Homo sapiens: one gene and its partner. The protein of the gene in region 1 purifies or fractionates together with the protein of each later gene. This does not show direct contact. Each region holds a gene or a part of one and is shown in the gene's direction. Other genes may lie near its edges.

Region 1 (3,500 bases):
CTACCTCTTAAATTACTTAACTATATATTAAGAATGCTTTGTAAAATCAGTCGTCTGCCCCAGCAGTTCTTTCTTTTTCTTCTTTCCTTTTTTTTTAAAAAATGGGGAGTAGATACATAGTTGAAGGAAAAAGTGGAGCCCAACAGGACCCAGATCTTTTTATTGTATTTTTTTAAGGGCTAAAGTAGATCAGATTGATTTTCTTTCCTCATACTTCATCACAGCAATATGACGTCCAATTTGACCAAAATAACAACTAGGTAAGTAATTGCTTGATTAAAATCTCATGTTTGGCATTGCCTGAGACAGAAATTCTAATAATTGATAATATTATGACAGAAACCCTAATAATTGATTAAAAGTTAGATGACATTATTTTCATTTTAGTTTTGAGAAACTGTCAACTTTTAATTATTTTGCCATGTGCATTTCACATGACCATGTTTTAAAGGCACATTTTCCAACAAAGTCAAGATGAAGGGAGACATGTTTTAGGCAAGGAATATCAGTACATTTTTAAGTTGATAAGGGAACAATTTATTAAATGACCCTAATCTTATATCAAACAGTGTATACTTTGGTAGATGAACCTCCTATCTTTTTTTAGTAATTTTTATAGCCAAAGAAAATGGTTCTTGGTAACTAAATGTAAATGCCAACTCAAGGCTAATGTGGGTTTTTTTAAGATCAGATTTTACAGCCCAACTCTTAATTTTAGTACAAACTCTAAATTTAGCTAATTTCAACATAGTATAAAACTAATCAAATATGCTAGGCATTTTGCTTCTACAGAGTTTAGGGCATTTTGCCTAAATTGCTTGCCTCTAATTGTGGGGTCTTATTTCCCTTTCAGATATAGAGGACTTAAAATATGCTGCTTTTGGAAGCTACAGTAGCAATTTTGCAGTGAGCACACTTACAAGCTATGACTGGTCAGACAGGGATGATGCAACTCAGGGCAGAAAACTCTCTCCATTTGTCCTCTCAGCAGGAAGTGGATCCCCCTCAGCCACCTCAATTCTTCAAAAGAAAGAGACTTCATTTGGCAGTTCTGAAAACATCACCATGACATCTCTCTCCAAAGTAACGACCTTTGTAAGTGAAGATGCTCTTCCAGAGACCACCTTCCCAGCTCTTGCCAGTTTTAAAGACACGATTCCTCAGACCAGTGAGCAAAAGGAATATGAAAACAGAGACTATAAAGATTTCACAAAACAGGACCTGCCTACGGCTGAACGGAGCCAGGAGGCCACGTGTCCCAGCCCAGCGTCCAGTGGTGCCTCTCAAGAAACCCCGAACGAATGTTCGGATGACTTTGGAGAGTTTCAAAGTGAAAAGCCCAAAATCAGCAAATTTGACTTCTTAGTAGCCACTTCACAAAGCAAAATGAAATCCAGTGAAGAAATGATCAAAAGTGAGCTGGCAACCTTTGACCTTTCTGTTCAAGGTGAGTAGCTTCCAAGGTAGATTTTACTATTGTGGTTTTTTTCCACTGAGATGTTAGATGTTCTTAAGAATAAAATGTTGCTCTCTGGTTTCGCAGGAAATAGATTGTTCTAATCTTTGAAATCAGGGTCAATTACAGATAGCTATAATAAAGATTTCCCTGAGACGGGAGTCAAAATCAGCATCCCTCAGATAACTGCTTTATGGGCTAAAAACAAGCACAGCATGCAGGTATTGCTCATTAGCTCGTTTGGTTAGAGGTGTGCTGTGTTAAAAGAGCCAGATAAATGGATTCGAGCCACTTGTAGGCACATTAGCTCCGCTCATGTTCCCTGAGCACAGATAATGTCTTTTAATCCAAAGGTTGCAAAGTGGGGGCCGGGGATCTGCATCTAGCCTGCATATCACATTGACCCACACAAAAGATTTTTAAGTACGAAGTAATTGCCAGTATTTAAAAGACATGAGATTTCCCAATCTGGATTTCCAACTTTTCTTGAGAAGTCATAATATCTGGCACTAGTAGGTCTACAGTCCCATATGTTGGCAGCTGGAGCCGAAGAGCACCACTCCCTGTAGGTGGGTCATTCTCTCTCTCCTACCATAATCCCCACCGCTTCCTGTCTCAGCGGACCTACTTAAGTTGTTCACTTTACTTGCCTGGTCTCTGAAGGCATTTGAGTTTGCCTCTTCTGCTTTAATCTCATCCTGACAGGAGGGGTCGTTGATTTCAACTGGATTGAGAGACTGTGAAGGAACTCGGTTACAAATCCATAACAAATGACTGGAAAAGCCACACAACTCTTACATACTGATATTTAGAAAGGTGCTTTTGTTCTCCAGACTCCAGTGATTCTGCACTGGGCATTATGGAAGACTTGTGATAGATCAGAGAAGAGTCATGTTGAAAACGAAACGCAGGGAAACCGTGCAAGAGAGAACAGTAGAAAAGATTTAACATGTAGCTTCCCAGAAAGAATGAATGAGGAATGTGTTTGTGAATGCCTCATGACATAAGCATCTGAAGAAGAGGGTCGTGGGCTGGGCGCGGTGGCTCACACCTGTAATCTCAACGCTTTGGGAGGGGAGGCAGGCAGATAACTTGAGATCAGGAGTTCGAGACCAGCCTGGCCAACACAATGAAACCGTGTATCTACTAAAAATACAAAAATTAGCCAGGCATGATGGTGTGCACCTGTAGTCCCAGCTACTCAGGAGGCTGAGGCAGGAGAATTGCTTGAACCCAGGAGGCGGAGGTTGCACTGAGCCGAGATCACACCACCGTACTCCAGTCTGAGCGACAGAGCAAGAATCTGTCTCAAAAAAAAAAAAAAAAAAAAAAGAAGAGGGTTGTGGTAGCGAGGAAGAGCCTCTGCCTGAACTAAGGTGAGTAGCCAAAACCTTTGACTGTATTATCCCCTTCTCCCAGGATCACACAAGAGGAGTTTGAGCCTTGGTGATAAAGAAATAAGCCGTTCTTCTCCTTCTCCAGCTTTGGAGCAGCCTTTCAGAGACCGTTCCAATACTCTGAATGAGAAGCCCGCCCTGCCCGTCATCCGAGACAAGTACAAAGACCTGACGGGAGAGGTGGAGGTGAGAGGAGAGCTTTCTACAAGGGGTGGGTAACAGACCAGCAAGCACACAGGGCCCCAAGAAAGAATGCTGTCAGCTTTCACATGGGGAAAATGAGGGGCAGAAAGACACAAAGCACCAGACATAAACTATGTAATTAAAGTGAGGCAAGGGTAACATTAGCCCTGGGTGAAAACATTTCCCAGGTGTGGCACCCACTGAAACTAATCAGTGACCCTAAAACCAAAACTATTCATGGGACTTCACAAGGATGGCAGTGTTTGTATAATTCTTCTTGAGCACTTAGACTTTATTGTCTTCATGAAACCTCAAAATAGAGGAGACAGGGAAAATATTCTGAATTTTTTATTTCTGTCTGCTGCATCTTAGTGCCACGCTATGTTCCTCCTATGGTCAACACACTTAATTTCCCACCTTTCCCTACTCCTTGTTACATGTGCACATGGGCCACGTCCTCACAC
Region 2 (3,500 bases), on another chromosome or scaffold:
ATTCACAACTTAAAGAATAATTTGCACATTGATTCATTGAGGAAATGTTTAGTGCCAGAAACACCGCGTCAAATGGTGGGAGTAAAATAGCAAGCCAGATGCATACAGCACCTATCCTCAGGGAGCTTAAAGTTTAGCAATCAAAAGCTAGAGTTTATGCATTTCCAAGTCCAGAAATACCTAAAAACAAGAGTTATTTGGCCAGGCATGGTAGCTCATGCCTGTAATCCCAGCACTTTGGGAGGCCAAGATGGGTGGATCACTTGAGGCCAGGAGTTCTTCAAAAACAGCCTGCCCAACATGGCGAAACCCTGTCTCTATTAAAAAATACAAAAATTAATCAGGCGTGGTGGCGTACACCTGTAGTCCCAGCTACTCAGGAGGGTGAGTTGGGAGGACTGCTTGAACCCAGGAGGCAGAGGTTGTAGTCAGCTGAGATGGCACCACCGCACTCCAGCCTGGACAACAGAGCAAGACTCTGTCTCAAAAAAAAAAATTTAATTATAGTCTTCAATTTATTAATCCATTATATCCTAGTCTGTATTATGTATTTTATAGTCTATTAATTAATAATGAATGCAAAAAAGAAAGTTTTACTATCATTTAAAGGTTCTTAATGTTAAGGTCATAAATTCGTTATTTGATTTTTTTTTAAATCCTGAAAGCAGAATTAAATATAATGATACGTATTGGGGATTTGTGGGCCAGAATGTATTCTCAATTAGTAGTTTGGCAAGCGATCTTTGGTTGTCTCTTGTCAAACACATTTCGATTCTAGTGGAAGCTAAAAGGTTGGGGTAGCAGGCAGCAAGGTTAATTAATGGGAACTTACAGAAACATTCCAGTAAGAGGTAACTTAAGGCATTTTCCTTATAGATTCATTTTCTGGTCAGTAATTTAACAGATACCTCCAATATATTGGAACACTTAAAGTAGCAATGGTAATAAAGTAATAATAGCTGTTAACATTTATTGAATGTGTATTATGGGCAGCATTGTGTTAAATTCTTTATATGCACTGACTTTTTAATCACCACAGTACCGTTTGAAATAGGCATGTAAGCCCATTAACAGATAAGGAAATTGGGACAGAAAAATTGAACATCTTGCTCAATGTCACATAACTAATATAACTAGTGGAATTGGGATTTGAACCCGAGTCTTCTTTCTGCAGTATCTGTGCTTTTATACACTGGATTGCTGCTGCTTGCTAAAATTAGGTTGTATTCCTGGAAGCAAAGATGTATCTCAGTATATATTTTAGCATTATTATAAAGCTATTAAACAACATTTTTAAGTCACTTCAGTGTTTAGTTCTACAAGTTTTCTATTGAGAAATAACTGCATAGTTTTTAACACTCGGACATCAACTGGTATGGCTAAAATCATAAATTGTATAGACCAAAAAAATCATACCACAATTCATTTCTCCTATGTCAAAGACATGATTTTGTGTTTCCAGAAGCAGTAGTGAATGACACAAGTGGAGAAAACAAATCTGGCGCAGCAGACATTGCAGCAAGCCAGCATGTGATGGTCTGTGCCCTCCAGGAACTCGGGAGCCTGGTGCAGAGCTTGAATGCCACCGCATCCCCTCTTATTCAAGAAGCATCTATAGGTATGACATTCAGTTACTTGCTAGTATGTGTTTCCACTTTTTTCAGTCATAAGTGTGATTGATATTTAATTCCTGATTAGTTGCTTATCATCATCATTAGCACTTCAGATCATCAGGTTTTACTTAAATTAATATTCATTGTGATAGGCTGGGCGTGGTGGCTCGTGCCTATAATCCTAGCACTTTGGGAGGCCCTGGTGGGCAGGTCACTTGAGATCGGGAGTTCAAGACCATCCTGGTCAACATGGTGAAAGTCTGTCTCTACTAAAAATACAGAAATTAGCCAGCTGTGGTGACACGTGCCTGTAATCTACTTGGGAGGCTGAGGCAGGAGAATTGCTTAAGCCCAGGAGGCATAGGTTGCAGTGAGCCGAAATCATGCCACTGCATTCCAGCCTGGGGGACAAAGTGAGTCTCAAAAAAAAAAAAAGTTTCCTTGTAAAGAATATTGAATTAAATGGTTAAATAAAGTTTTGGAACAGAAATCAAAAGCAATTGTGGTAGTTTTTTTATAAAAATTGACTAAAATTTGTTGAAGACTTCTATTAAATTTTACATCAATATTGAATATAATTGTACTATGTTCTTCATAGAAAATGTTCCTTTGAAGTACTCTACTGTATGTAGTTTTAGGCAAAGTTGTGGATCTATATGTGTGAAAGCTTGGTGATTGTCATTTCAGTTATTGTTTTTTAGATAGTATTTGAGTTTCTGAAATCATTTGACTTCATTAAAGAGTAATATTTTGAGTATTTCTTGTTTAGGGCTTTTGGAGATTGTGACTTCAGTGCTGCTTCATCCAAGCATGGCTGCCCGACTTGCTGCTGCATGGTGTTTGCGCTGTGTGGCTGTGGCATTACCTTTCCAGCTGACACCATTTCTAGACAGGTGTGCAGAACGGCTCAACAACTTGAAGACCTCACCAGAAGCTGTCAGTGGATATAGTTTTGCAATGGCTGCTTTGTTAGGTGGAGTACATCAGTGTCCTTTGGGCATTCCTCATGCCAAAGGAAAGGTATGACGGAGATCCTAGACTTGGGAATGCTGTCACGTGGGCTTTGGTCTTTATAGGAACGCTGCTGTGTTTAGTGTTGAACAGGGTGGTCAAATAACAGTTGTACTATGTTATCATAAAACATAGTGTTCTTACTATGGTGTTAACAGACCCTATTATAATTTGATATTTAATTCTGATGTAAGGATAATAGATTTTGTCCAAGTCTAGTAACATGTTATAATTTATTTTAGAGGGAAAGAGAAAAAAAACAGCCTAGGCAACATAGTGAGACCCCATCATTACAAAAAATAAAAAAAGTTAGCCAACTTCATGGTCCTAGCTACTGGGGAGGATGGGTTGGAAGGATCACTTGAGCCCAGGAGTTTGAGGTTACAGTGAGCTATGAACATGCCACTGTCCTTCAGCCTGGGTGACAGACCAAGACCTACCCTGTCTCAAAAAAAAAAAAAAAAAAAAACCCAACCTTAGATATAGTAATTATTTGAAAGTCAGAGCTTTTCTTTCAGCTTTTAGAAATAAAAGTTCACATTGCTATATATTCAAAGATGTCAGGATAATACGCTATTGTAATATTTAGCATTTTGATAATGTTTAGTAAAAATTGAGTGGTTTTAATAAATCATGGCCGGGCATGATGGCTCATACCTGTAATCCCAGCACTTTGAGAGGCCGAGGCAGGTGGATCATTTGAGATCAGGAGTTTGACACCAGCCTGGTTAACATGGTGAAACCTTGTCTCTACTAAAAATACAGAAAAATTAGCCGGGCATTGTGGCCCATGCCTGTAATCCCAGCTACTTGGGAGGCTGAGGCAGGAGAATCACTTGAACCCAGGAGGCGGAGGTTGCAGTGAGCTGAGGTTGC

The links. Proteins that work in one complex are often made in the same cells at the same time.
Region 2: the proteins of SYNRG (region 1) and HEATR5B purify together in Homo sapiens (affinity purification with western blotting; one study listed by BioGRID). This does not show direct contact.

Annotation. Positions count from the first base shown.
Region 1 is NC_000017.11:37,539,919-37,543,418, reverse strand, and holds part of SYNRG (synergin gamma), read left to right. Parts: intron 1-853; coding exon 854-1,447; intron 1,448-2,875; coding exon 2,876-3,039; intron 3,040-3,500. UniProt on the Homo sapiens protein: Plays a role in endocytosis and/or membrane trafficking at the trans-Golgi network (TGN). May act by linking the adapter protein complex AP-1 to other proteins. Component of clathrin-coated vesicles.
Region 2 is NC_000002.12:37,063,873-37,067,372, reverse strand, and holds part of HEATR5B (HEAT repeat-containing protein 5B), read left to right. Parts: intron 1-1,462; coding exon 1,463-1,618; intron 1,619-2,382; coding exon 2,383-2,633; intron 2,634-3,500.